Homo sapiens: one gene and its partners. The protein of the gene in region 6 purifies or fractionates together with the protein of the main gene of each other region. This does not show direct contact. Each region holds a gene or a part of one and is shown on either strand. Other genes may lie near its edges. The genes, in order: SPIN1, SGSH, TTLL12, EFL1, PPME1, FKBP10 and DNAAF5.

Region 1 (3,896 bases), on a different chromosome or scaffold from region 6:
ACGTTACAACATGAACCAACTTTGAGGACATTATGCTAAGTGAAATAAGTTACTCACAAAACAAATACTGTGTGATTCCACTTCTATGAGATATCTAGAATAGTCAAATTCATAGAGACAGAGTGTAGAATGGTGGTTGCCAGGGGCTGGGAATGGGAGGAAAGGTAGGTTGTTTTGTTTAATAGGTAGAGAGTTTCAGATTTGTAAGATGAAGTAGTTCTGGAGATCTGTTTCAACAATGCGAATGTACTTAACACACTACTGAACTGTACACTTAAAAATGGTTAGGACAGTAAATTTTATGCTATGTTTTTTTACAATTAAAAAAAAAGTAGTTAGTCTTGCACTTTGAATAGCTCTTTCACCAATGCATGATGTGGTACCATGCACTGCTCATAAAGAAAATATTGTGTTCACTAAGTTATGCAAATCTTCCAAATAGATAGTGGGAAACTCCACTGTGTAATTGAGAAAAAGAGAGAGTGAAAAGCGCGAATTACAGCTTAACAAAATGAAAATATTTCTGACCTTGCAAATCTCCTGAATGGGCTTCAGAGAACCCAAGGGTCCCCAGGCCTTGCTTTGGGAACCACTGCTCTGTGACATCACATGCATTCTGGCTGACTGACTTTTTTCTCTAACTTTAGCTTAAGAAAAACATAATTTTAATTATACTCTAATGTACTGCCTGAAGCAATTGCTTCCGACGTAAAACGTAAGTGAAGAGCAAGTAATTTTTTAGACTAAAGTAGGTTGATGCCAAAGTAACTGCTGTTTTGGCCATTACTTTCAATTTCAATGTCAAAAACCGCAATTACTTTTGCACCAACCTAATACCACGAATACTAAAATTAATAACAACTATTAGCTGAATTAGGCATATATATTGCTGATTTACAGAAAAGCTCTTGGGTTTCTTTTTATATTGCTTGAATGTTTACAAAATTACTATTGTTGGAAACAGAGATAATACCAAACTACAAACAACATGGAACCCTTAGTCCCATCACCAGAGATACTTGTACAGTTTCTATCCTTCGATGACAAAAGGACCAACAACCACAGGTCATGCAGCAATATGCAGGAACCTTCAAGTGAGCTAGCTGTCGTCTCAGAAGGGGCAGAGACTAAAATTCTGCTGTTAAGATTTTTAATATGTTAAAGTTTCTTATATGGGAAATGGATTAATGCCATGATCAAGAAGAAATGTAGGATGTGCATCAAGAGGAAGAGCAGGTGATCAGTCACACTTAAGAATAGATGAGAATGTTGAAAATAACAAAGACTTAATATTACTTTTAGGAGTAATAATAAAGATTTAAATTTAAAGAAAGATTTCTTTGAAAACTGAACCATATTTATACAGATGAGCAAGGATTTAGCATTTGATATCTAAAGAGAAGAGTAAAACAAAATAACTTGCTACTAAGGCAGAATTAACTTCCTAAGGAAACTCGTTATATCCCAGGGACACAATGGCACAGTCTGAAGAAAAACAAAGCGAGGAGACTGAACTAATTTCTTCCTGTGACAATTTGATCCCAAAATTCCTACCTCCCAAGTCTAGATCTGCTGAAACTTTATTATTTAATGGTATAGACTTATAAAGACAATTCTAAAAGTATAAACCAATATTTTAAACAAGAGCAGCATCACTGTAATAAGAAAATATTTCAAAATAAATACTTCAAAAAAAAGTAATATTAGTTTGGGTGTATCCCACCCTACTAATAAAATCAGTAATTATTATTTACCTTAGACCTTATGCCTTAAGGAACACTTGCAGGGCAAAACTGGCACTGTATGACATTTAAAAAGAGCCATTCATTTCCACAAACATTGTTCAATCAAGCTCTGTGTATAATAAAGACCACGTTTTGGTTGTTTAAATTTTGGCTCAAAGTACAATTATCATTTACGTTGTACACAAAGATACACTTTCACAGAAAGATTCTAAAGGCACAGCATTCTCTTATCTTTTGTATCTGATGAGATGAGATTAACATATAGGATATTTCAGCTACTGATAACCTTACCCATCAGAGTCCAGAGAACAGTGAGCAAAAATGTTAGAAATAACCGTATTATAAATTATTACGTGGCAAACTTCTTGGGGGGAAAATACACATCTCTATATCCCTCACACAGTTCCTTGAACTGCTTAGGATCCATTTTTGTGGTTTTCGGTGATTTAATATAATGTTTATCAAGAAGGGTGCTTGTGTTCCAATAAAAGTGAAGTATTAATAATGTAAAATAAAAAAAGCATCCAGTTCAATATCATTTTTAAAGTATATAATGCACAAATTATAAAAAGAACTTACCAACTCTATCAGGGAGGACTTCAAGCGCAGAAACTCTTTCATCTTTATTAAGTTCTAGTCCATAAACACAGTCAAATCCATCGTATTTTATAAGATACAAAGAAGGATTTACAGGCACCTGGTCCAGAACGGTTCCTTTCCACTGGGTAACAGGGCCATTCCCCTCTTTCCACCCATGCTGAATCCTGCAGCCTACGATGTTCCGCCGGGGCTGGGAAACAGGTTTGCTCGGACCCACACTGCTCCGATGTTTTCTGTATTCACACATATACACACATAAGGTATTATCTCAAAAGTATGCATGCCTAGATCTAACATAACCGCTGGCTAGCATGATCTCATTACAGATGGTCCCAAAATATGTACAAACTCATGTTTGCCACATTCCTGCTTCAGGTGACTCAAAGTGGTTGTCCTCTACCCCTGTACCAGTGGTGGTGAGTGTGTAACATGGTATGTTAGTAATAGGAGCTTGTTGTGCACCTCAACTGTGTATAGGCAGAAAAAACTACTAGTCAATAGCAACTTAAGCCCTACTATTAAGCATCAGGTTATCAGCTTTCTGAGTTTATTTTAATTCAATCAACTCAAAATTTTCCAAGTTAATTAAAGAAGGACTGATCCGTGAAATACATGTTATCAATAATCACACAGGTATATAGTTTTATATAATATCTACTTCAAGTTAAAAAGAAATGTGTAACTATTCAATTTCACCCATTCCCGTGCCCAAATAATTCTGCCTGTACAAGCTTAACTAATAAAAATAAACTAGACAATTTTCTCTTAAACTGAAGTCCAGACTAGCTTATATCAATGCACTATAGAAACATTACTTGTCTAGAAAACATATAATCTTAAAACTGAAGTTTATAACAATGTAATATTAAAAATTATTGAAACATCAAACTACTTTTTTTCTGGCTTATTATTAGCAATTGAAAAATCCACACAGAATGTTTATAAATAATACACCTGGCTCTTGATATCAGGAAAAAATCTTCATTTCACCTTAAAACCCTGGCTTCTTGGATGCAAGCTGAAGGTCAAAACCAAGATAACAGATGCTGATATACGCCAAGAACAAAAAGACCTGAAAGGAATTCCCTTCCCACAGTTTTATGGGTATAAAGCTCTCATTTCGTACACCATGAATAAAAGTGATTAATATCTGACATATAACACAAATAAGTTTTAAAGAAACAATTTATTGTAGGTTGTAACAGCTAAAACTAAAATTATATATTTTCTAAATAGAAATAATTTACTCTAGACTGGTAACATATATTTAGCTAAGTCAGACGGGAACAGGCCATAAGAGACAATAAGGAGTACTCGCCGCAGAAGGGAAGCTTCTCTCCTGGGGGTGAAAAACTAAGCAAGGGGGTCTGAACCTAACCAAGGAGACTGGGAGGAGATTCACAGGGTTAAGTGCAAGACTGTAAGGCCAGAAAACCCAGGTCTGCCTAAGCCCCTTGGGACTGTGCAAAAACCCAGCAAACCTTCCTTCCAGAAAGACAAAGCCCTTCTGAGTACACAATCCTTACTGACCAGGACAGGACCACAGGGTGA
Region 2 (4,447 bases), about 38 Mb from region 6:
CCCACTGGGTATGTTAGCAAGAAGGCATGGTACCTAGTAGGCACAATACCTGGTGGGTATATCAGCAAGCAGGCAGGGTGCCCAGGCAGGCCTGATACCCAGTGGGTATGTTGGCAGGTGAGCATGGTATGGAGGCTGGACTGATTGATAGATGGTGGGTATGTTGGCAGGTGAGCATGGTATGGAGGCTGGACTGATAGATGGTGGGTATAAGCAGGTAGGCATGGTACCCAGGCAGGCCTGATACCAGTGGGTATGTTAGCAGGTAGACTGGTATCCAGCAGGGATGATGCGTGGTTGGTATGTTAGCAGGCAGGCATGGTATCCAAGTGGGCATGATAAGCAGGCATCATACCACAATAAGCTTGATGATACCCTAAGCAGGCATGATACCCGGTGGGTATGTTGGCAGGTGGGCATGGTACACAGGCTGGACTGATAGCTGGTGGGTATAAGCAGATGGGCATGGTACCCAGGCAAGCCTGGTACCTGCATAGGCATGTTAGCAGGCAGGCATGGTACCCAAGTGGGCAAGATACTCATGCAGGCATGATGACCCAACAAGCTTGATGATACCCCAGCAGGCATGCTACCTGGGTGGGCGTGTTAGCCGGCTAGGCATTTAGGCAGACAGCGGCTGAGCGCATGGCCACAGAACTGCTGGGCAATTCTGGGCTCAGCGGAAACCGCATGGGGCAGAGGGCAGGAGAGCCTCGCCCAGGGCGCGTCTAAAGCTCTATGTGTGTGCGTCCCACCGCTGCTTCTCACTGATGCCATCTCAAAGGCCTAGTGACCTTGCAGGTTGTCTATTTCAACCCTTTCATCCTACACAAAGCAGCTGAGGCCCAGAAAGGTGAGGTGCAGTGCCCAGGGCCACACACTGGGCAGCAGGAAACAGGGACAGGCCGCTGAACTCCTACAACCACACCAAGCTTCTTCCCCCTGCTCTGGAGTAGAGGACACTGGGGGCACCACAGGAGAGGCTGGTGGGAACCCCCAGACCAACACTTTCCCCAGCTCCCTCAGAGGCAATGTGGTCCATGGATGGACAGAGGAGGCTGGGCACCTTCCAGTTGGGCTTCCATCCTCCACCCCACAGTACCCACAGGTGTGAGCACATGGCAGCCACGTAAACCTGGAGGGAGAGCGGGATGGGCTGTGCTCCGTACCCGCAGGCCAGGAAGAAAGCTGCCCTTCTCCAAACCCAGAGTGTCTCGGCACTTGGCTGTGGGCCTGCTATGGTCTGAACTGTGTCCTCCCAGAATTCATATGCTGAAGCCCTAACGTCAACATCACTGTATCTGGAGACAGGGTCCTTAATTAAGGGTAAATGAATCATAAGGATGAGATCCTGATCTGACAGGACTGTGGACTTAAAGGAAAAGAAAGAGAGGGCCGGGTGCAGTGTTTCATGCCCGTAAGCCCAGCACCCGGGAGGCCAAGGCAGGAAGATTGCTTGAGCCCAGGAGTTCGAGACCAGTCTGGGCAACACAGTGAGACCTTGTCTCTACAAAAAATACAAAAATTAGCCAGGCATGGTGATGTGCACTTGAGGTCCCAGCTACTTGGGAGGCTGAGGCAGGAGGATCGCTTGAGCCTGGGAGATTGAGGCTGCAGTGAGCTGTGATTGTGCTACTGTGCTCCAGCCTGGGTGACAGAGTGAGACCCTGTCTCACAAAAAAAAAAAAAAAAAAAAAAAAAGGAAAGAAAGGAAAAAGAAAGGAAAAGGAAGTGAGACCACCCCCATCCGCTTGTCATGTGAGGAAACAGTGAGAGGGTGACCACCTGTAAGCCGAAAGTGGACCCTCACTGGAACCCAACCAAGCTGGCACCCTGACCTTGGATTTTCAGCCCACAGAACTGTGAGAAATACATTTCTGTTTAAGCCGATCCATGGCAGTCCGTGCTAAGAAAGGCCCTAGCCCAGGGGCCGCATAGCCTGGACTCTGACAGCCTCCTGTAGGAATTCTGATCCGCAGGTGAGGGTCCATGCAGATTCTCTGCTGTGTTTCTGGGAGGCGAGGAGTTGGCAGGAGAGCTGTTTATGTTACAGTGAGCCGAACCCCCGCCCAGAGACCACAAAATTAATCAGAAAGAGGGCAACTGGCAGGGCGCCAGACCTCAGAAGGGGAAAGAATCGCAGGCCTTGGGTTTGGCCTTGTCACTTGTCATGAGCCAGAGCCTTGATTACCTAAACCGGAAGTCTTGTGAGCAGCACGGTGCTTGCTCTGGAGGAACCTGGGGTTTCTGAGAGGGACTGGGGTTGGGGGAGACGGTGGTGGGTGGGTGGTGGAGGGCTGTGCCCTTGGGATAAGGGAAAAGACAGCTGAGACACAGGCTCTGGGGTCGGAAATGAGAGCCAGGAGGGCACCCTGTCTGCAGTCTCTGGGGACCGGAGCACCAGCCCCTCCTCTGGGATCCCCTCCCAAGAGGGATTTGAGATCCGTGGACCCCTGAGCCCTGGCTGGGCAGGGTCAGAGGAGGGTGGGACAGGCGGCACGAGGTAAGTGTAGGGGTGCTGGATGCTGGGGCTCACTCCTCCAGCCTTTGCTGCCCTCTCTGGGGAGACACCCGTGAAGAGTCTGGGGGCGGCACAGAGAGGAGGACGAGAGGGAATGGCAGCGGGGGATACAAGGGCAGGGCACACTAGGGTCAGCATTGACCACGGGTGGGGAGGAGGCCAGTGGCCACTTCCCCGGGCCACCGCAGGTGGGCGTGGGGGGGCGGCGCCGGCACTCACCGAGGAGCAGCAGTGCGTTCCGGGGACGCGCCCGGCAGAGCCCCAGGACTAGCAGCAGCGCGCAGCAGGCGGGCACGGGGCAGCTCATGGCGGCGGCGGCTCGGACTCGGGATCGGGATCCGGCTCCGGCTCTCTGGTCTCCCGCTCGGCCCCGCCCCCTGCCCCGACCCCGGTCACGTGCGCGCCAGACCCCGCCCCGGCCTGTCCCCGGCGATTCCTGCGGACCCAGCTGCGGCGACGCCAGGAGACCCCAAGCTGCATCGCCGAGTGGGTGAGTCCGTGGCCCGCGAGGGCGGCGAGCGGGGACCAGGGGCAGGGGGAGCGGACAGTGGCCGGGGTCGCCGGGGGCAGCCGACGCGGGGGCCAGCGCGGAGTCCTGAAGTGCGGGGGCCTCCCGTGGGGACCACTCCCCCGCCGCGTCCCTACCCGGGTCCCCGCGGCCCTCGGCCTTGCTCGGGGCCAAGGGACCGCGGACGGTCAGGTGGCGCAGGGTCTCCTCCGGAGACCCCAGGATCCGGAGCCAGCGGCCTTGTGGGCGGGGCCGGGGGCCGGGGAGTGGATTTTGCCCGGAGCGGAGCGGCCGGGGGCGTGGGGGGCTGGGGGTGAGGGTGGCGGCTCTGCGCGCGGGCGCCGGGGCCCTGGAAGATGCTGCGCACCTGAATTAACCGGGCGCCTCTGATGTCCTCCCAGAAGCAACTAGAACTCCAGGGCTGTGAAAGCCACAGGTGGGGGCTGAGCGAGGCGTGGCCTCAGGAGCGGAGGACCCCCCCACTCTCCCTCGAGCGCCGCAGTCCACCGTAGCGGGTGGAGCCCGCCTTGGTGCGCAGTTGGAAAACCTCGGAGCCCCGCTGGATCTCCTGGCTGCCACCCGCACCCCCCGCCAGCCTACGGTGCGCCCGCGGGCCCAGCTTCTCTCTGCGCTGCTCCCCGTTAAATTCCCTGGGGAGACGGAAAAAAAGGCAAAGGAAGTCGGTTCTCCAGGGGCCAGAAGTGTTGAGCCTAATTAGTCTTCAGACTTCTCAATGAGGAATCGCTTATCAGTTTCTTATCTGGGAGAGTTGAGGATGGAGGGACAGAAGGCACCCAGGATTTGCACGGGGGGGATTCAGGGAGAGAGGGTGATGAGGGACGGGGTGGGCCTTCCAGTCTTGGCCCAGTCCCCATCTTGCACACATTGTTGGCTTCCTCTTAGAGCCGTTCGCCCCCCTGGGGAGGGGAGACCCATAGTGACCTCTCCTGACACCCGCCGACCCTGACCAGTGTTGCCGGGTTCTTCAAAGGCCACGCTCTGACTGCTGGTCTGTGTCACCTGCACCCCCCAGCCCCACCGTAGAGATGCCTTCTTCGGTGACGGCGCTGGGTCAGGCCAGGTCCTCTGGCCCCGGGATGGCCCCGAGCGCCTGCTGCTGCTCCCCTGCGGCCCTGCAGAGGAGGCTGCCCATCCTGGCGTGGCTGCCCAGCTACTCCCTGCAGTGGCTGAAGATGGATTTCGTCGCCGGCCTCTCAGTTGGCCTCACTGCCATTCCCCAGGCGCTGGCCTATGCTGAAGTGGCTGGACTCCCGCCCCAGGTGAGGCGTCTGACCCTGCTGCCAGCCATATCTCAGAAACAGTGCAGAATACACAGTATCAATCCCAGACACCATCAGCGATTCCAGGTTTCCAGCCCCTGGGCCCCAAGGAACCTTTGGTTTACAGTGTGTGACGCA
Region 3 (4,409 bases), on a different chromosome or scaffold from region 6:
GGCTTGTTGCTAACTGTGGCGGCGATTGGTCATCTGAGGTCTTCACTAATGATAAATCATGGCGCGTGAACATGCGTGGAGGCACCTGGCCATGCCCATGTCCGAGGAGTCCTCTAGGAGGACTTGGAGAAAGGGCCCTGCCATGCACTGGTGACTATACCAGCACACACTCCCCACAGGGGCCGAGTGGTCCTGTTGCTTCTGTCTGTCTTATCCTTGCCTGTGTTGAAGCCTACTCCCTAGGACCCAGACCCCCCAGCAGGGCCCCAGGACATTGTTGGAAGTCGCCCTCAGGTTCTGAGCCCCTCCCTTCTGTACTGTGGGGGTCATCCCGGGAGTCCTCTCCTGGAGCTCTGTGCCTGGGGAGGTACGTCCAGCATGGCATGGATGGCGGGCTTCCATAGGGGCCTTTCCTGGCTTGTTCTTTTCTGGGAGAAACCTGAGCCGACTGCCACCTTCCTCGGGTGTGTTTTGGGTAAAGTCTTGAGGCCAGAAAGATCTTGCATCCCTCAAGCACTCTTGAGCTGGTGCTGAACCAGGGCACAGGCAGGTCCCGCGGCGGAGTCTTGAGCTCTGCCTCCTTCGCACTGTACTGAGCTGAGTGTGAGGATGGTGCCAGCCCAGGCCCTGCAGTTTCTGGAGCCCTCGATGTTCATTGTCTCGCGTGAGCCTCACAGCTGCGTGGCAAAGTCAGTTTACTGGGCAGAGCACATTTTCCCATTTCACAGAGGAGGAAACAGGCTCAGAGAAGTTAATCCGTTGGTCCAGAGTCACACAGTAAGACCTGGAGCCCAGACTCCATCTCCTGCCTCCTGTTTGGACCCTGAGGGTTCGGGGTTGGCTGCCTGCTCCTGGAACCCCCACCCAGTGTCAGAAGCTCCTGGTCCAGGCAGTAGCAGGCTGCCTGCTCCCGGCCCAGCGGAGGCCTGTACAGAGCGTGATGGGCCCTGTGTCTGTTGCAGGTGCACTGTGAAGAGTTCATCCCCGAGTTTGAGAAGCAATACCCAGAATTTCCCTGGACGGACGTCCAGGTAATTCCTGTCCTGCACACCATCGCAGGCCGGTGGGGCGGGTCCCGGGCTGGGGGCCTGCAGGAGCTGCTCCCTTCCCTCTCTGCTGGCATGGGCTGGGAGGGACCTTTGTCCCCTGCAGTTGGTCATTCTCCCCAGAGGCTGGCAAGACAGCGTGGGCTCCCCTCCCTTCCACCCTGGGCATTTGTGGGTGCTCCTGAGAGGGAGGGAGCTGGAGGGGCATGTGGGGCACCCCTGGGACAGCCAGAGGGTGGCGGCACTGCCTGACCCTAGATTCCCAGTCATATGGAGACGTTGGCTGGGCCTCCATGTCCAGCAGCGGCATTCTGGGTGCTGTGTTGAGCTCCTTGGGGCAGTGGGGAGCAACGGGGTCTGCGGCAGGAGATGGGCAGATTTGCAGAAGGTGGGCGTCAGGAGTAAGAGGGCAGGTGCTGGGCGGAGGTGGCCATGGTGAGGTCTAGAGACGTGAAGATGTGGGAGGGGGTGACTTGGGCCACGTGGGGCCCGGGACTTGGGCAGGGGCAGCAGACCCCCTCTTGAGAGGCTGTTCTGAGCAGGCCTCGTAACTCAGGCTCCCCGGTCCCCAGGCTGAGATCTTCCGGGCCTTCACGGAGCTGTTCCAGGTGGCCTGTGCCAAGCCACCACCCCTGGGCCTCTGCGACTACCCCTCATCCCGGGCCATGTATGCCGTCGACCTCATGCTGAAGTGGGACAACGGCCCAGATGGTAAGAGGGGCTCCCCATCTCCTGATCCAAACCAGCAGGCGCCCCCTCCGCCAGCCAGCCACAGCCTGGAGAAGGCAGGCAGCTGCCCCAGGCTGTCCTCTGGCTTGAATCAGCCAGGAATCTGGGTTGGGGAAAGCCCTGGCTTGGCCCACAGGAAGTGCCTGCGGTGCAGAGTCTGGAGGGGAAAGGCTGCGGGTTGGGCCTCTGAGTCGGGGGAGAGCTCACAGGACAGGAGACCCGTGTGAAAGGCACCCTGACCCCAACCCACACCACCCTGGCTGGCCTTCCCTGTGCCAGACCCCCACACAGTACACTGCTGCTGCATATCTACTTTTTTTTTTTTTTACTAAACTGAACATCCAAGCTTAAAGGGCCAGGCTGTCATCCCTAGGGCTGGAGGCAGCCCTGGCCTCTCCTAGAGAAGCAGATGTCAGGCCAGGCCTCCCCAGCAAAGTCAAGAGACCCAAGTTCTAGGCCCGGCCTTGTCCTGCTCATCCCCTGGGAATCAGGGCCCAGGTTCATGGCCTCCCAGCCTTTGCTGGATCCCCAGGCCACTGTCCCTGCAGAGTGGAGGCCAACGAGCCTTCACACTCTGCTGCGCTCTTTGCCATCAGGAAGGCGGGTGATGCAGCCGCAGATCCTGGAGGTGAACTTCAACCCCGACTGTGAGCGAGCCTGCAGGTACCACCCCACCTTCTTCAACGACGTCTTCAGCACCTTGTTTCTGGACCAGCCCGGTGGCTGCCACGTTACCTGCCTTGTCTAGGCACTCGCTGTCCCCAAAACCTGTGCTTGGGGCAGGATTCCAACCTCAGTTCTCTGAGCTGCTTCTGCAAAGGCCCCCATGTCCCTCCCCACACCGGCCCTGGGCATAGCCTCAGCCCCAGGCCTCTGTCCTGCCGAGCCATCCTCCCGGCGCCACACTCCGGGAGCACAGCATCCTCCTCTCACCTGTGGGTCAGAGCAGGACAGTGATGGTGTCCCCAGGGCTGAGCACCACCCCACGCCCTGCCCTCACCCCTCACCACCATCTGTGCACTGATGAGTCTCCAGTTTAGCCAAGGGCTTTGTTCCTGGCATGGAGAATTTGTTCCTGGCTGCTGTGTTTCCAGGGGGTGCTGGGGGAAGGGTTCCGTGGAGCGAGACAAGGTGTCCTCGGGAGCAGGGTTCCACCGGGAAGCGTTTGGGAGCCCTGTATCACACGGGGCAGGCGGGTTTCTCTTCCGGGGTCTCTGCTCTTATGCATCAGGACGACCCCGGGACGGCTGTGGGGCCCCACACTGCACCCACAGGGCTCTATGCGACAGGGGCCCAGGAACAGCCTGAGGCCACCACCCAGCAAGCCCGCCTTATCACCCATTCCAGCTCACCCAGAACCTTCACCAGCAAACCTCCTGCTGAGGTCCTGGCAGGAGGCCACCGTCTTGTTACCGTTTCCTTTTCGTTTGCTGAGGGTCACAGACCCCAACAGGGAAATCAGTATCTGTCTTCCCAGTGGTTGCCCTGCTCGCCGGGCACTCCACGGGGTCCCGCCCTTGTGTGAGATGGGCCAGGATCCTTCGGCAAGGGGCGCCTGGGGCTGGGGCTGATTGTGGGCGGTGGAGCGCCAGACAGAAAAGGATTCCAATGAGAACTTCAGGTTAAAGTCAGATGCCACCTACCAGGGTCTACAGTCAAAATGTTGGCTTTTTCTTATTTTTTAATGTATGGGAGAAAAATGTAAAATTCCAGTTCTTTTCTAATTGTGTTTCTGAAATTAGGAGTCAGCTGCCAGCGTTTTTGTGTGGCTGCAGTGTGCCTGGGCCCAGCTCACGGGCAGTGGGTGGACCTAACTGCCCAGGCAGGCGAGAGCTACTTCCAGAGCCTTCCAGTGCATGGGAGGGCAGGGCTAGGTGTAGCGGTGTCTCCTCTTTGAAATTAAGAACTATCTTTCTTGTAGCAAAGCTGCACCTGATGATGCTGCCTCTCCTCTCTGTGTTGTCTGGGCCCTTGTTTACAAGCACGCGTTACCCTTCCTGAGGGGAGCCATGCTCTAGCCCCTGGAGGGCCTGTTGCAGGGGCAGGGCGGGCCCGTCGCCTTTGGCAGCTCCTGGAGAGCTGTGGACATGCAGTCCCCCTCAGTTCGTGCTGCAATAAAGGCCATCTTCTCTTATTTCTGCCCTCCTTTCTCTTTGGACCCTGGAGCCACAGGCTCAGCCTGGCCTGTCGCCCCGGCTGTCACTGAAAAGCCCCGGATACCAAGAAGTCACCCACAAAAAGTGGGAGAAGAAATAAGATGGCCTTTATATCGCAGGCCTCCACCCCACAGTCTGATTTCCATGTGCTGGATCTGTTTCCAAGCCGGCCGGGAGCCTCGGTCCTCGAGTGGCCCCACAGCTCTAGTGGCCCTGGAGATAGCAGCCTCCCCACACTTGCCTCCTTGTCCTGGGGTGGGGACGGTGAGAAACCCTGGCTGCTGGGGCGTCTGCAGGGCTCCTCGGGCCACTGCTGAGCAGGTGCATGGACACCGTCAGTGGGTGGAAGCAGCGCCACATGGTGACCAAGGAGGTTAAGACTCAGAAGGCAGGCCAGGCATGGTGGCTCACGCCTATAATCCCAGCATTTTGGGAGGCCGAGGCAGGACAGAGAACAGGTCACACAAAGTCAAGAGAT
Region 4 (4,665 bases), on a different chromosome or scaffold from region 6:
AGGAATCTACTTTAAAGCAAAAGAATCTTCGAATATATTTATAGTTACTTTTATTAAGCAGACTACATACAACTAAAGTCTATGAGATTTTATGTGATATAAACAGGTGATTCTGTGTAAAGAATGTCAGGGGTATGCATAATTACTACAACTGGGTTGGAGTAAGCAAAGGAGGGTTTTTTTCCTTCAAGACAAGTCTTTATTGCACTTTAGGAACTTCAGCAAAGCTATGGAATCTCTGTATTGTTCAAACCAGAGACCAATGAGTAGGAGAACTGAAGATATTTAACACTGCTATCTGTCTGCAATGTAAATATGTATTAGCATATAATCCTAGAGCATCACTTTCCTGCTACCCAGTAAAGCTGAATTTATTCTAAGTACACCAAGTATATACCTCCCTAGAAAATAATTATCAAGCAAGCAGGAACTTTGCTTTATTCACAGCAGTATCCCTAGGACCAGAACAACGCTTGTCATATAGAAGACCTTCAGAAAATACTTGTTGAATGGATGAATCCCAGGTTTTTTAGGATAGTAGCAGCTTAACATAATTTTAAACAATACATTTAAAGTAATTTGTTACACCCCACTAACTTTCCACTTGAATAAATTCATAAAGAAAAAAAAAACCCTTTTATCAGCCTTCACATTCTCAAAATGTGAGCAGTAAAATTATAAAAACTCATGGAGGCAGGGGTTACTCACTGGATTTGTACTAAAACTCATTCACAGCTGGCTTCACTTGTAAGTGATCCACTATCTGTCTTTCTGTCAGTTTCCATACTCACATTACTTCAGCTCTTCTATCAATGACAACAGCCACCTAATCTCTGACTTTGGATCCATCCTAAGCATGTCTACCAATCTAATCTTTCTCATGTTTTATTTGATTACATCATTCCTGCTCCATGTTTTCCCCCAAAGGCTCCCTACTGCCTAATAGTAGACATTAATGATCGTTTTCATGGTGAAGCGTTTACCTTCCCTCTCATTATTATCACATTTAATCCTATAGCCTATAAAGCAGGTATAGTTTTCATCCTGTTTTACAGATGCTGTATATTGAAGCTCAAAAAGGCAAGGTATGTAACTTGAAAATGGAGATCTGAACTTAGGTTGTCTAACTCCAGAGCTGGAGCACTCAACTCTTATCCCAGTTCCTAGCTGGCATGAGCAGCTCTATGAGATATGACTCAGCCTGCTTCTTCACCTCGCCAACTGGTCCTTCATCTTCAGGATGGTAAATATGTTTTATTTCATATGCCCATCCCAATCACTTTGCTGTGGTTACCTAAACTACCAAGAGGTTTGAAATCAAGAGGAGGCTTAGCATGAAGGAGCGCTATGGAGTTACAGCAGTATCTGTCAGAAGAACATACCATGGGTTAGCTATCTCTGCCTTTCCCATATACTGGGCTTTGACCACATATATTTCCCTCTCCCCTTGATGACACATTCCCACCTGTAATGATTATCTCCATTTGTCATCTTGAGCCCCCTTCAAGTGTCATCTCTAATACTAATTATGTTGTGAGGTCTTTTCCTAACCCCTCACTTCCTAATCCTCTAGTTCTCCCAACCTTAGAGTCTACTTTTTTCTCTTGTTTGTCTCATTTTGCTCTGCTCCCCGTTAAAACCTCCCCTGGGCTAGTGCCCTACTCATAAATCTCCACCTTCAGACATACTAAGCAAAATATCTTGAACTTAACAGACGTTTGATAAATATCTGATGAATTAAATAGGATCACATACCACAGACTCTAAGGACATTATGTCAAGACTACAGACATTTTATATGTAAAGCCATTTCAAAAACAAAAAATTCAAGTTCTGCTTTAAAAAACAACATGACATAATATATAGAAGAATGCTACTCACTAGGTAACCGTGTTCATTTCAAATGCTTTATAGCAAAGCAGGCTTCCCTAACATCACACAAAACTTTTAAAGAAAGAAGACTTGCTTCTTAGCAAACATCACTCTCAGCTGTCCACAGCTTCACTCCACTGAGACATACAGAGACACATCTCCCTTATTTATCAAAATAAGCCATTTAAAAAGTATTCTTACCATGGTCAACATGAGCCAAAACACAAATATTCCTGATGTTGGCAGTGTTTTTCTGGAGTTGAATCATCTTATCCAAACTGTTGAGCACCATGATTACTTATTTCCTGTGACTAAAAATTAAATATGTATTACAAATGGCCCAGAGGCTAAAGGTCGGGGCAAAAGAAAAAAATAATAATAAACGCTGGGAGGTGGCAAGCTTCTCAAACCCCTTAAACCAAGAACCCAGTGAATGTTTATTGATGAGATAGACCACCAAGGCCTAAGTCCAGTTCGAGCACTAAAGTCAGTATCCTACCACGATTACACTTAAGGAGTTTGCTCATCCTTCCGGATCCAAAGGCTGCGATGAATCACGCAGCTCGAGGGGACTGGGTGCACAGTGACACCAGTAACCCTGCCGGTGGAGGAGTACTCCAGTAAACATCTCCAGGCCAATGACCACGTACAGGAAGGGTTGCATCCAGGAGGGAGAGAAAATGCTGAAGAAGATGCTCCCTTTCTCTCTTCAGTCTTCCCCCAAGTCCCTCATTCTGACATTCTCGCTCGTCCTCGCGCGAGGTCAAATACCCAGCTTTATTCCTGCCCATGGAGCCCGAACAAAGTTTTGGGTCACGTGCTTATTATCCAAGCAGGTGCACTGCCGGTCTTTCATTCCTTTCTAAATAAAAAGGAAAAACCTCTACACTACATGCCCTTCATTTCTGCAGGGTCCCAGATTCGTTCTCTTTGAGGATCCTGGGTCCACACAGACAGGCGACCGCCCCGGCCCCAGACGGGAAGCGGCACTCCGGGGACCGAAGCTCCCAGCCCGCGCTCGGCCCCAGCCCCTGTTCCCGCCTCAGAGCCGCAGCGAGCGGGTTCCTCCGGCACCGCCCAAAGGCTGGCCTAGGAGGTTCCAGCCCCCAGCGCCAGCCCACACTCACCGGCTGCAGCAGCCCCACCAGCCCCGCTCCTTCTCTCGGGTCGCACCCACACCGAGAGCTTCCGAAAGTCCGAGAGCTCTGCGGGTCCGACACGCCCGCGCGCCAGGGGGCGGGGCCGGCTGTCGCTCGACCTTTCACCCGCACGTCTCTGACGCCGCCGGAAGCCGGCGCCGAGTCTGTCACCGGGCATCCCTCTGTTGCCTTGACTACGGCGGGCGCTGTGGGAGTGGAGAAGCTGCAAGTGCTGAGGCGCGGTGGAGGAAAGCATGGGAGCCAAGAGTATGAGGAGCTGGTGTCTGTGTCAGATTTGTAGCTGCGGGTAAGAAACGGCTGGTGTAGCGGCGGGCCCGGGCTTGGGAGCCGACCTAGGGCCTAGGTGCACGGAGCCGGCTCCTCGGGAACCCTGAGAGTGGCCGTCCCCCGGAGATGAAGGGACGAGGGCGCAGCGACATCCCCACTTATCCCGCTCCGCGAATACTCGCTCCTCACCCGCCTGCTACCCGGGGGTAAAACGTTTGTTCGTAGCCCCTGAGACTCCCAATCAAGGATGCAAAGTAAAATGCCACCCGGGCCAGGTAAGTAATATATGTGAAGCCGCGACGGGATATAACGCTGGTGAGTAGTGGGATGTGATCCGACTGGGAGAGTGCATTTCCACCCCATAATCCCCCACCACGAAGATGAGAAAGAACAGTGCTCAAGGCCCTGAGTCTGCAACCCATATCACATTTTCTTTCATCTGTAGCTTTCTGTCCTCCCAGCCAGACCATATTCCCATTCCCGTCCAGGCAGCAGTTCTTTGGGATCCGCCTGACTGAAAAGTCAGTAAGTAGTCCCTACCCTGAAATCTAGAATCCAACTGTGAGTCCTGCCTAACAACCTTCCATCACCTGTAAACACAGTCCTCTCCTTCCTCAGCTTCACTATTGACCCAGGGATTAGATCATTATTTGCTAAGTAAATATGAACGTTGTCAATCCCTGGTGTATTTGTAATCCCATTCAAAGAAAACACCTACATGTTGATGGAAAGCAGTTTTTTTAATAGTCTCATAATAAACACAGTTCATAATTATATATAGATTAAAATATCAACAAATTAACTTTGGGTGTATGAATCCTCAGACTGGTGTGCAGGAGAAAATTTTTACTTTTCTCCTAATTTATATTCAACGCAAGTTCCTTTCTCATTCAACTGTAAGGAAATTCAGTCTTCATTATGTTGAGGGCCACCATTGGAATGGCGTGATTTTACTTCTTGTTTGTTTGTTTTGGGCTGTGGTTGTTAGTTTTGTCTTTTTAAGGGTTTATTTTTATTTTTTGACAATGCAATAAATACACAAGAAGTATCATAAAAATCTAAGCAAAAATATCTATAATATTGTAAAACGCCTTCATAATTCTATCTTCCACAGATAACAAATGTTCTTTAAGACTTGTTTTACATATGCATTGATTTTTTTTTTTTTTTTTTTTTGAGACAGAGTCTGGCTCTCTTGCCAGGCTGGAGTGCAGTGGCGCAATCTCGGCTCACTGCAATCTCCGCCTCCCGGGTTCAAGCAATTCTCCTGCCTCAGCCTCTCTGAGTAGCTGGGATTACAGGCTCGTGCGACCACACCCAGCTAATTTTTGTATTTTTAGTAGAGACGGGGTTTCACCATGTTGGC
Region 5 (3,896 bases), on a different chromosome or scaffold from region 6:
CCAACTTCACACCTCATTCCCCACTTCTTCTATTTGATTTTCCTCAGAACAGCCAGAGTGGTGTAACCAAGATGCAAATTTGTATCTGTCTGACCTCAAAGCCCAGGTTTCCCCTAACTTTTTTGTTTTGTTTCGAGACAAGGTCTCACTCTGTTGTTCAGGCTGAAGTGCAGTGGCATGATCATAGCTCACTATAACCTTGAACTTCTGGGCTCAAATGATCCTCCCACCTCAGCCTCCTGAGTAGCTGGGACTATAGGCACATGCTACCACACCCAGCTAATTAAAAAAATATATATATTTTTTGTAGAGACAGGGTCTCGCTATGTTGCCCAGGCTGGTCTCAAACTCCTGGCCTCAAGTAATATTCCTATCTCAGCCTCCCAAAGCACTGGGATTACAGGTGTGAACCACCACACCTGGCCTAAAGCCCAGGTTCTTAATGACTATACCCCTGCTGCCTCTCATTAGGAAACCTATGAGAGCAAAAGCAGTAAATCATTGGCCTTATATTTCAACATAAAAAAAAATCTAGAATAGCCAAAATGGCCATCAGTCATAAACTTGATTCAGATATCCAGCAGAATAAAAAACAAAATTACCAAATACCTCATAGTATAATAATTTTCAGGTTCAGAAAGATCAATGACTCTCATGAAACCCAGAACATCTTAACATTTAACAAACAGAACCCTTATTCTATCCTGTATCTGGCAAAAGAAACAAGACTACTTTAAGAGAAGGCCTACCATGATACCCAGGCTGCATTAGGTATATCCCCTGGCTTCCTTCATTGTGTTATGTTTATGTGTTTCCTTGTTTGCATCCCCAGTTTTTTGATGATAGGAACTGAGCCTGATTCATCCCCCAGTTCTTAGATCAGGTACTGACACATCTTAGGCACTAGAAAAAAAAATTTACTGAATAAATTTTTAGAGTTCGGAAAAAGGGCCAGGCGTAGTGGCTCATACCCATTTATCCCATGACTCTGAGAGGCCGAGGCGGGCAGGCAGACTGCTTGAGCTCAGGAGTTCAAGACCAGTCGAGCCAACATGATAAAACCCTGTCTCTACAAAAAAAAAAAAAAAAAAAAAATCAAATAACAAAAATTAGCTGGGCATCGTGGTGCACAGCTGTAGTCCCAGCTACTTGGGTGGCTGAGGCAGGAGGATCGCTTGAGCCCAGAAGGTCAAGGCTGCGGTGAGAGCTGTAATCATGCCACTGGACTCCACAGCCTGGGCAACAGAGTGACACCCTGTCTCAAAAAAAAAAAAAAAAAAAGTTTGGATAAAAGTTGGATGGGCTTTAGACAACTGAGCCAAGTCTAGAATAACTTTCTCACTTGTTGTTACTGCGGAAGCAGGCAGGGCACCTGAGATACAAGCCAAGCTGGCAGCAGCTACATTCTTGATGCTATCTGCCCAAGATAGATCTTTGATATTTCTGTGAGAACAGGAATCCTGCATCACAGTAGTGAACAGGAAGTGGTAGAAACTTCACCAACACAAACATCATTCTGACAAGCCATATTCTTGCATAAGACCATTTGTCCTAGGAAAACGCCTAGGATATATTTACCAAGTCCTAAATTTCCACTTGATATCTGATTCAGTTAACAGATATATTCTGCCTGCTAGGGCAGTATGCCATATGCTATATGAAAGTAGAAAAGAAATACAGAATAGCTTCTTCCCTTATGATGCAGGAAGGGCATTAAGACAGACATTAATGAAAATTAACAATATGAGCCATATCCCTCAAGGGAGTATTGGAAAACTTAAGGGTATACAGTGCAATATAATAGAGACTTAAAGGTCTCTTGTAATTTTGCTGAAAGCGTCATCTGGGTGGTTTGGAGAACTTAAGAGAAAATGTTCTGAAGAAGAGACTGGAGATGGAGTTAGAAGAATAGGAAGGAAGATAGGATGATGAAGACATTTATCCAAAGACTGATCTCCTTGTGGGAAGGGACAGTGTTTTATTCATCTCTGAATCTTCACTCATTAGCACAAAATAAGTGTTTAATAAATACTTTATCAAATGATTAACTGAATTAATGAATAAATTCATTCCTTTGCTTAAATGGAATTCTGTCACTGATTTTTATAAAAACTATTTACCCATTGAGTTTATTTACCCAAAATCCAAATAAATTTGAGGGAATGGAACCTATAGCCATCTTCCATTTCTCCACCATTTTATCTGAAACACAGAAAGTAAATCTAAAACCATGAAGCATCAGAGGTGGATGATGCCTTAGAAACCACCTAGTCTAACCTCTTACCTCAGAGGCAGAAACAGCTAGACAGCAGATGATCAATAATTACTAAGATTCCAGGAGGTACTATAGTGTATTGGGAAAACAATGGGTTTCAGACAACTGAGCCAAATCTAAAATATTTTTAAATGTTCAAAAAATTCTGCTGTTTATATAATGTTTCCTCATATGCTATTACAATAAGGCGTGGCAACTGAAATTCTATTCCTTGAACTTGGTGCTTGACCTAAAAAAGAAGAAAAGCTACAATCTAACATTTAGAATAAAGGCAACAGTGGCTGGGCACTGTGGCTCACGCCACAACCCCAACACTTTGGGAGGCTAAAGTGGGAGGATTACTTGAGGCCAGGAATTTGATTACTTGATTACTTGAGGCCAGGCTAAAGCAGGAGGATTACTTGAAGCCAGCCTGGGCAACATAGCAAGACCTCGTTTCTACAAAAAATTTAAAAATTAGCCAGGCTTGGTGGTGTGTACCTGTAGTCTTAGCAACTTGGGAGGCTGAGGTGGGAGGATTGCTTGAACCTAGGAGTTCAAGGTTGCAGTGAGCTAGGATCATGCCACTGCACTCCAGCCTGGGTGACAGAGTGAGGCCTTGTCTCCTAAATAAATAAATAAGCAAGCAAACAAACAAACAAATTAATTAAATAAAGGCGACAAAGATTTGTTGGTTACCTCCATTCAATAGCATTCTCCAGAGACTTGAAGGTTTTAGGACGACCCCGTAAGAAATTCTGCATGCTATTAAGTGCATCCATAGCTGTACCTGGATGTTAAACAAAAACTGTAACCACATATTTAACTTATTCTGAGCATTTACACTTACTGAGTCAACTACTATATATCTGCTCTTGATGACAGCAGAATTTAGTGATGCTCGCAGAGAAATAAAGATGGCCCTCAATAATTTTTGCCTCTGGGGTATTCACTTCTTTATGTCATGCCCTCACACTGAAGAGGATGACTTGTATTCACAAGCAGCAGTGTGACTTCTGAAGCTGGGTCAGAAAAGACATGGCAGCTTCTTTTTATATGATTAAATACAATTATGGGACATACATAGGATTGAAATATTATGCAGCCATAAAAAGATGTTAATGAAGAGTTTTTGATGACATGGAAAAATGGTTATCTTGTATAAACTTAAAAAAGATATAAAGACAGAGGGACATATTTCAAGATGAATGAAATCAACAATAAACTAAGACAAGGTAATAATCTACCAAGGATGTCTCTTATAAGTGAAATCCTGATTTGGTCAGTGCTAAGAAAACTCACCTTCTACAACATCAATCATGCACAGACCCAAGAGGCTTGGTACCAGGTTGGATGATGCTGTGTGGACTGCAATAGCACCACCCATGCTATGTCCAATCAGCATAATTGGAGGAGGAAGGTCCCCATACATGGCTTCAACCACATTGCCAACGTCTCTGCAAAGAGAAGAGAAAAAGATCTAAGAATGCTTTCTGACAACACTGTAAAAATGGTTTTCTTTCCCAGTTCCTTTCTTTGGTGTGTAACAGTGCTGGGAAACTGTAAAAGTCTATTGGGCCATCTTACAAACATACCTATGTAAACCTTCTAACATGTCCCCAGCATCAATATGTGTAGCCAC
Region 6 (3,896 bases):
AGGAAACCTCCAGATGGGGAGCCCCTGACCTGGGGACATGCTGTCTGGAGCTAATGAGGCCATGGAAACAGCCTGGTTTAACTTTTTCCCCAATCTCTGGGTCTAAAGGCCTCCCACAATCCCCACTTCATCCCCTAGCCATTCCCCCCTGCCCCTCAACCTGGTCCAAAAGACACCCTAAGGCCATTGGTTTAATCTTTTATTTGGAACAAAGGAAAAAAGGACTGACACCAGTTTAGCCTTTGAGTGTGCAGAGCTCTGCCCTCCCTCCCACCCCTCAGCCCCAAATCCAAGATTTCATAGCCCTAACACCCACCCAAGCAGCTTCCCTCACACATGCCCTTTGTTTTCTTCCTCTCTTCTATGGTTCCTTAGGGAAAGGAGCCTTCTTTAGGGATGAAAAGCTAACTACAGCCCAGTCTGGCCTCCAGCAGCCCAGGGTCAGCTCAGCCTCCACTGGAGGCGAGGGAGGAGGGCAAAGGGCATGGGAGAGGTAGGGCTGCCCTCCAGGAGCCTTCCCCTTCCCTAGGAGCCAGTCAGGATTGGGGAGGAAGGCAGAGGGGTCCTAGGGAGCTGTCACATAGAGGAAAAGGGGCTGGGAGTGGGGATGACAAGAAGTACAAAGAAAGAGAAAGTTTGGGGAGATGGATAACAAGCTCAGCTGTGTCAGTGATGTGGAGGGGAGGTATGGTGGGGGACCAGCCATGGCCCTATCCAACCCCAGGCTCCACAGGCCCCAAATTGGCTTTGCAAATCCAAACATTTTAAGGAAGTGGTTTAGGGATGGAAGAGAAACACGGTAGAGGTCTGTGCTGTGGATTTTCATCTAGGGTGGTGGGAACACCAGAGATGTCTCCTCTGCCATTGTTTTAGTTGGCTCCTGGACCTCATCCCAGCAGAGGGAGGGTGACTGTCAGCAGGTCAGTCCCACCGCCACTGTCCCCCTCGCAGTGGGCCTCTGTGTCTCAGGCCTGGCCAGGCTCCCTGCCCCTCAGAGCTCCTCGTGGACCCGCTCCTCGTCCTCATCTGACTTCAGCTTGAGCTCGTCGACTGTGATCTTGCCGTCCTGGTTGCGGTCCTGGTTCTGGAACATGTCTCCTATGGTTTTCTCAGGGTCCTGCCCAGGCATGAGGCGTCCTTTGCCCTCACTCACTTGAGCCTTGATGAAGGTGGAGAACTGGGGCAGGGGAGAGCCGGGGGAGCGGGCAGTGAGGGTCATGGCCTTGGGAGGGGCAGGGGCCCCGGGTGGAGGCCAGTGAGTGCTTTCTTTTTCTTCTTTTTTCCCAGGCTCCCCCGCACCCTGTAACTCAGGAAGGGCTGGGAAAGGCACTGGTGCTGGGGTCCTGGTGGGGGCTGGGGTGGAGGCGTGGCATGGGGATAGTCTGTGACTGGTCTCAGGTAGGGAACAGCCTGCATGTGTGCCCAGGAAAAAGCAGGGACAAGGAGCCTGAGGCGTGGGACTCAGCGCAGGCAGGAGCACCAGGGCGGGTGGGCAGTCCGGACGGGGGACGTCTTCTTCCTCGATGCTTCCTGGGTGCGGGGATTGCGTGGGCATGGCTATTAGGACTGAACCTTCACCCACCTCCTCCGGAGGGACCTCGCCATCCTTGTTGAGGTCCATGTCTTCAAACAGGTTGGCAGGAGGGTCCTTGTGCCACACAAACAGGTAGCCTGTGGGCAGCCCATCCTCCCGGGACACCAGCTCCACCTCAAACAGCAGCACAGCACTGCCTGGGACTCCCCGGGCTGGAGGGAGGGCAGGAGAGAAGGGAGGGGTCCTAGTCAGGCCGGGGTCTGGGCCTGGCTTCACTGTTTCCCAGCCCACAGGCCAGTTTCCCCTCCTGGGGCTGGGCTGGAGAGTGGGGCATGGGATGTTTAAGGAGCCATCCTGAAGGCATTCCTGACTCCTCCCACCAGTCATCAGACCCACAGTGGGCAGGAGCAAAAGGGACAGATGCCAGTCAGATTACGGTCTCGGGCCGAGCGCAGTGGCTCATGATTATAATCCCAGCACTTTGGGAGGCCAAGGCGGGTGGATCACCTGAGGTCAGGAGTTCAAGACCAGCCTGACCAACATGGCAAAACCCTGTCTCTACTAAAAATACAAAAATTAGCTGGGCACGGTGGCAGGTGCCTGTAATCCCAGCTACTCGGGAGGCTGAGGCAGGAGAATCACTTGAACCTGGGAAGTGGAGGTTGCAGTGAGCTGAGAGCACACCACTGCACTCCAGCCTGGGTGACAGAGTCAGACTCCATCTCAAAAAAAAAAAAAAAAAAAAAAAAAAAAAGATTATGGTCTCAGCCCCTCACCTCCACTCTCCCCGTGGGCCAGGTGCGGGGGCACGATGAGCTGCCGCCTCTCTCCCACACACATGCCCTGCAGGCCCGTGTCCAGGCCTTCGATCACCTTGTTGGCCCCGAGAGTCGCCTCCTGGGGGGCCCCGTAGTCATGCCTGGGGGAGAGCAGATGCCCAGGTCAGCAGCCACCCTGTCCCCTGCCAGCGCACACCCCTCTCCCTCTGAGGTGGGCCCAGAACAAGCCCTCAGTTCCGGAGTTACTCCCACTGGTGACTTGGGCCACGCAGCAGAGTGCAGGGGCCCAGCTGTGCAGACGTGGGGTTCCCTTCTCATCTTGCCTCTGCCCCCTAAAGTGTGGCCTCGAGGGCTCATGGCTCCCTGCGTCAGTTTCCCCTCTGTGAAATAGAAAGAGCAGTTCTCCCCCAACTGTTGGCTTCACCTTCCCTTCCCCTGCGAAGCAGAGAATTTCATCTCCTCGACATGCTCCGAGATGGGGACTTACAGAAAGCAGCAAGAGGTTGAATGCTCCCCTGGCGCTCGAGGACCAAGAGGGAGGAGCAGGCGTCGGGGGTGCACTGAGGAGGACTCCCCATGCCTGTGCCCACCCACCTGCCCAGTCCCGGCCCCCCCCCGGACCCACGAGGTGAACAGCTGGGTGCCGTCCAGCAAAGAACAGTTGTAATGGTATCGAACAAAGTCCCCAAGCTTGGTGGTCTCATTGCAGGTCTCAGATGGCCGGGACAGTGTCCTGATTTCCACCACATCCGCAGGGTTGTGGAAGTCAATGACATGGACGTTGAAGATTAGCACGGCAGAGCCAGGGATCTTGTCTCCTGAGGCCAGAATGGGGGAGTGTGGTCAGCTCAGAGCACTAGGAGAGGCTACTTGAGGTCTCTCCATGGAGGTCCCCAGACCTGATACCCCTTCCCGACCCTGAGGATCCAAAGGAGGATGGGACGGGATGTTTGTCCAGAGTCAATTCTAACAAACTTTCACTGGGGCAGGGGGCAGGGGAAGGCAGCTTTCCAGTAAGAAAGCCCTTTTCCACTCACCGTCTTGCAAACTCCCAGTAACTTACCCTGCGGATCAGCATGGCTTGCCCACTTGACAGGTGAGGACACTGAGGCTCCCAGCACAGCTGGGTCCTGGGGGTATGCTGGTTCTGTTTTTCCATAACCACCCTCCCTCCCCAAACTTGGCTGCCCTTCTCCACTGCGGAAGGGGCGAAGTGGGGCGCTGCCCTGGAGGAAACCGATGGAGTCTGTGTGGCAGGAATCAGATGGGGTGACCAGATGTAAGCTGCATGCATGTTTTTGTGATGAGAGGGGCCGAGCGGTGCCTGGAATCCCACTGTGGGAGGGGGTGGCCTAGACACAATGGGCAGTTCGGAGGAGGAGCTGAGGTGGTGGCTGGGGAACGCCCCTACCAGTTCCATTCTCCCCATAGGCGAGGTGCGGGGGGATGGTAATTCTCCGGCGTTCCCCCATGCAGGCACCCTGCAGCCCCTGGTCCATCCCGGGGATGATGTAACCCTGCCCGATATAGGTATTGTAGGTGTGGTTGCGGGAGTAGCTGCAATACAAGGCGGGAGGGCCAGG
Region 7 (3,896 bases), on a different chromosome or scaffold from region 6:
GGATCTTCCTGGCGTGGCCGCCTCCCGTCGCGCGGCGTCAGAAACTCGGATCTTCGCGGCGTGGCCACCTCCCGACACGCGGCATCAGAAACTCGGATCTTCCTGGCGTGGCCGCCTCCCGTCACGCGGCGTCAGAAACTCGGCTCTTCGCGGCGTGGCCGCCTCCCGTCACGCGGCGTCAGAAACTCGCATCTTCCCGGCGTGGCCGCCTCCCCTCACGCGGCGTCAGAAACTCGCATCTTCCTGGTGTGGCCGCCTCCCGTCACGCGGCGTCAGAAACTCGGATCTTCCCGGCGTGGCCGCGTCCCGTCACGCGGCGTCAGAAACTCGCATCTTCCTGGTGTGGCCGCCTCCCGTCACGCGGCGTCAGAAACTCGGATCTTCCCGGCGTGGCCGCGTCCCGTTACGCAGCGTCAGAAACTCGATATTCCTGGCGTGGCCGCCTCCCGTCACGCAGCGTCAGAAACTCGATCTTCCTGGCGTGGCCGCCTCCCGTCACGCAGCGTCAGAAACTCGATCTTCCTGGCGTGGCCGCCTCCCGTCACGCAGCGTCAGAAACTCGATCTTCCTGGCGTGGCCGCCTCCCGTCACGCAGCGTCAGAAACTCGGTCTTCCTGCCATGGCCACCTCCCATCCGGCGGCATCAGAAACTCGGACCTTCCTGGCGTGGCCGCGTCCCCTCACACAACGTCAGAAACTCGATCTTCCTGGCGTGGCCACCTCCCCTCCGGCGGCATCAGAAACTCGGATCGTCCTGGGGTGGCTGCTCTTGTTACGCAACGTCAGAAACTCTCCTGCGTGGGCACCAGGCTCAGAAGAGTCCGGCTTGTGGTGGCAGGGCCAAGCTTTGGCTCATTGTGATTTTTTGTGTGAGAGCTTGACTTGTATCCTCGGCCACAAACCCTGTCGGTTGTTCTGGGAGTGAGGGACTTGGGCCGTTCACTTTCACGCCGTGCTCTGCCAGATCCCGCGTCCGCACAGCCAGGGTGGGTGCACTGCTCGTCCGTCCGCCATTCTTCCTGGGAAAAGCAGCTCTGCTGCACGACCCTGGTCCTCCGTGTGAAGCGGTGCACCTGGTGCCCACTCGCGGGTGTAAGCCGTGTGCGTGAGGGTGAGTGTGGCAGGTGAAGCCGTGTGCTCGAGGGTGAGTGTGGCAGGGGGCGTGGGCCTCAGCTGCTCCCGCATCTGCGCAGGTGTGAGCACAGTGACGGGCAGGCCGGGCATGCTCTGCGTGCGACCACATGCCTGGCTTTGACTCACAGACCCTCTGAAGGGTCCTGGGGACCCCGAGGGCCTTGGAGCCCATGTCGGGAGCCCCTGCCTTGAGTCGTGGAATCAGGTTGTCAGCCAGTGAGGGAGCCCCAGAGCCCATTGATCCACGGCGGGGCCCGTGGTCTCTCCAGGTCACGGAAAGAAGCTGCGAATTGGAGACCAATTGGAAATTGTTTAAAAGGAGGACAGCAGCTCACGTGCAGGCCTCGCTGGGACAGCCCATCCTGCCAGATCCACGCAACGCCCCCAGCTCCCCACACTCCCTGGCAAATCCCAGCCCTGCCTGCGCCCTCCCAGCTCTCCTGTCCTGCACTACACACCATCAACCCGAGTTCTGAGCTTCTCCTACTCTCAGCCTCAGCCTCACTCGTCCTCAGGACCTTGCTCTAGGCCGAGGAGACCAGTGCCCCTGTGCACCAGCTCAGCCTGCAGCCCCGGCCCTCTCGCCTCCCCAGGACTGCACAGGGCATCTCCCTTCCCCACTGCACGGTACAGGCCATTCTTTCTCCTGTCTTTAAAAAAACAAAACACAGATGCCCTGTACGCCGCCCCCACCTCCCCCACCTCCCCCACCGCACATCCGCCTGGCAGCAGGCTCCCTGGAAGCAGCCCGCCTTACCCCTCCTCGAGGCCCTGGGCCCATGGCAGGCATCTGCAGCCGTCCACCTGCCTGCACCTCTGAGCAGCGCCAGGCACAGCTGGCGGCCACGCACCCTCCTCTGGCTGCGGGACGCCCGTGCTCAGTCTCTTGGTCTTTCCCTCGCCCATGTGGGCCCCTCACTGCTCCTCTGCTGTGTCTGCACCGCTCCCTCAGAGCTCTTCTCCTGGCCTCAGCTCCACACACAAGTGCAGCTGCCTGGTGCCGAACCCTGGGCCGCTACCCCCCTCCCTGACTGCCTGCCGGGTTCCGCCACCCTCAGTGGCTCAGTGGCCATCTGTCCTCAAGACTGAAGGCGGAGACCTTGAGGTCCTCCTGGACCCCCTCTTAACTCCCAGCAGAATCTGATAGACTCCCCAGCCACTGCAGCAACCTCCCCATCCTCTTCCTGCCTCAGCTAGACACGCCCAACCCTTTCTGGCCCCCACCCCTGCAGCTCCCACTGCCCCCATCACACACACCACCACGAGCCCCTGACACGTTTGCCTTCCTGATTTTCATCATCGGCCACTGCTTCCCGATGAACCCTCCGTAAGCATGGGTTCATTTCCGGCTGTGTCGGTGATGCCTGGCCCGTGGGAGGTTTGCAGTCACTGCGGCAGGTGAATTGGCATCCGCAAATTGGATAAGAAAGTCGCCTGTTTTTCTGAGCCTATTTGCTCCTGTGAAACCTGTTTCTAAGCCCAAAAATGCCACCTGAAGACTCTGCAGGACATCATTTCATGGTCTGCCCACAACTGCCAGGAGGCGATTTTCAGTTCTTTGAATGCACGTTGTGACTGCCGTGCACCCACCCAGCAGCATCAGGTTCCTCATATTCACATAGTGACCATGCAGCATCAGGTCACTTGTCCACGTTGTGACTCAGGTCATTCGTATCCACATTCTGACTGCCGTCCACCCGTCCAGAGTGTCAGCTTACTTATATCCACGTTATGACTACTGTGCACCCATCCGCTGCATCAGGTCGCTCGTGTCCACACTGGGACTGCCGTGCACGTGGCCAGCAGCATCAGGTCACTTGTATCCACATTATGATCGCTGGACACCCATCCAGCAGGATCAGGTCATTCGTATCCACATTGTGACTACTGGGTCCCCATCCAGCAGCGTCAGGTCATTCGTCCCCAGATTGTGAGTCGGGTCACTCGTATCCACATTGTGACTACTGTGTCCCCATCCAGCAGCGTCAGGTCATTCGTCCCCACATTGTGAGTCGGATCACTCGTATCCGCATTGTGACTACTGTATGTCCACCCAGCAGCGTCAGGTTATTTGCAGATGCTTTTACAGATGCTTGAACTTCACTACAAAGCCAATTTGCACGAGAGGTAAGATTGGTTTCATGTTTGTTTCTGGCATGTTCAAGGTGTTTTTCTGTTTTACAGAGGTCCTCAAAGAGGGCAGCGGGCTGTTCCCAGATCTCCTGGTGAGGGAGACGGAGGCCGTCATCCACAAGCACCGCTCGGCCACCTACTGCGAGCAGCTCCTGCAGCATGTGCAGGCCGTGCCAGCCACACAGTGACCACGCTGGTTTCAGCCACGGCACACCCTTGTCCCCACCTGAGCCAGAGTTTGTGGCCTTTAAATCTCATAAACAAGGCACCTCTGTGCCAGCAGTGAGACTGTGACAGCAAGAATGTACTCCTCAGGACACCTGCCCACTCTTTCCCTGGAATAACAGCCTCTGAGTGGATTCTGCATGTTATGTGATTTGTTCTGTTCATCGAGAGGGCTCCCAAACATCTGCAGCTGATTTGAAATTAAAAGTAAGTCGCAGCCGCTCCTCCCGCAGCCACTTCAGCAGCATCTTAGATTTTAAGCCTCACGTGCGCAGCTGGTTCATGAACTATTGGCTGCATCCTGCTTAGGTGCCCACCAAGAAGGTTTTTACCTACTTAACAAAAAAGAAAGAAGCCAAAGTGATTAGAAAGAAATGAAATCTCTTTTTGGGTTCTGTCTACTG

The links.
Region 1: the proteins of FKBP10 (region 6) and SPIN1 fractionate together in Homo sapiens (co-fractionation; one large-scale study listed by BioGRID). This does not show direct contact.
Region 2: the proteins of FKBP10 (region 6) and SGSH fractionate together in Homo sapiens (co-fractionation; one large-scale study listed by BioGRID). This does not show direct contact.
Region 3: the proteins of FKBP10 (region 6) and TTLL12 fractionate together in Homo sapiens (co-fractionation; one large-scale study listed by BioGRID). This does not show direct contact.
Region 4: the proteins of FKBP10 (region 6) and EFL1 fractionate together in Homo sapiens (co-fractionation; one large-scale study listed by BioGRID). This does not show direct contact.
Region 5: the proteins of FKBP10 (region 6) and PPME1 fractionate together in Homo sapiens (co-fractionation; one large-scale study listed by BioGRID). This does not show direct contact.
Region 7: the proteins of FKBP10 (region 6) and DNAAF5 fractionate together in Homo sapiens (co-fractionation; one large-scale study listed by BioGRID). This does not show direct contact.

Annotation. Positions count from the first base shown.
Region 1 is NC_000009.12:88,461,178-88,465,073, reverse strand, and holds part of SPIN1 (spindlin-1), read right to left. Parts: intron 2,579-3,896; coding exon 2,325-2,578; intron 1-2,324. UniProt on the Homo sapiens protein: Chromatin reader that specifically recognizes and binds histone H3 both trimethylated at 'Lys-4' and 'Lys-9' (H3K4me3K9me3) and is involved in piRNA-mediated retrotransposon silencing during spermatogenesis.
Region 2 is NC_000017.11:80,217,486-80,221,932, forward strand, and holds the start of SGSH (N-sulphoglucosamine sulphohydrolase isoform 1 precursor), read right to left. Parts: upstream 2,849-4,447; 5' UTR 2,829-2,848; coding exon 2,741-2,828; intron 1-2,740. Other genes in the region: SLC26A11 (sodium-independent sulfate anion transporter), read left to right, coding at 4,076-4,309. UniProt on the Homo sapiens protein: Catalyzes a step in lysosomal heparan sulfate degradation.
Region 3 is NC_000022.11:43,166,122-43,170,530, reverse strand, and holds the end of TTLL12 (tubulin--tyrosine ligase-like protein 12), read left to right. Parts: intron 1-962; coding exon 963-1,031; intron 1,032-1,618; coding exon 1,619-1,757; intron 1,758-2,371; coding exon 2,372-2,523; 3' UTR 2,524-3,909; downstream 3,910-4,409. UniProt on the Homo sapiens protein: Negatively regulates post-translational modifications of tubulin, including detyrosination of the C-terminus and polyglutamylation of glutamate residues. Also, indirectly promotes histone H4 trimethylation at 'Lys-20' (H4K20me3).
Region 4 is NC_000015.10:82,259,615-82,264,279, forward strand, and holds the start of EFL1 (elongation factor-like GTPase 1), read right to left. Parts: upstream 3,121-4,665; 5' UTR 3,000-3,120; intron 2,915-2,999; exon of another isoform or gene 2,523-2,914; intron 2,184-2,522; 5' UTR 2,165-2,183; coding exon 2,074-2,164; intron 1-2,073. Other genes in the region: SAXO2 (stabilizer of axonemal microtubules 2), read left to right, coding at 3,266-3,318. UniProt on the Homo sapiens protein: GTPase involved in the biogenesis of the 60S ribosomal subunit and translational activation of ribosomes.
Region 5 is NC_000011.10:74,230,060-74,233,955, reverse strand, and holds part of PPME1 (protein phosphatase methylesterase 1), read right to left. Parts: intron 3,712-3,896; coding exon 3,557-3,711; intron 3,045-3,556; coding exon 2,954-3,044; intron 1-2,953. UniProt on the Homo sapiens protein: Demethylates proteins that have been reversibly carboxymethylated. Demethylates PPP2CB (in vitro) and PPP2CA. Binding to PPP2CA displaces the manganese ion and inactivates the enzyme.
Region 6 is NC_000017.11:41,819,504-41,823,399, reverse strand, and holds the end of FKBP10 (peptidyl-prolyl cis-trans isomerase FKBP10 precursor), read right to left. Parts: intron 3,871-3,896; coding exon 3,725-3,870; intron 3,132-3,724; coding exon 2,939-3,131; intron 2,694-2,938; coding exon of another isoform or gene 2,637-2,693; intron 2,454-2,636; coding exon 2,311-2,453; intron 1,747-2,310; coding exon 1,583-1,746; intron 1,178-1,582; coding exon 992-1,177; 3' UTR 187-991; downstream 1-186. UniProt on the Homo sapiens protein: PPIases accelerate the folding of proteins during protein synthesis.
Region 7 is NC_000007.14:782,199-786,094, forward strand, and holds part of DNAAF5 (dynein axonemal assembly factor 5), read left to right. Parts: intron 1-3,318; coding exon 3,319-3,455; 3' UTR 3,456-3,896. UniProt on the Homo sapiens protein: Cytoplasmic protein involved in the delivery of the dynein machinery to the motile cilium.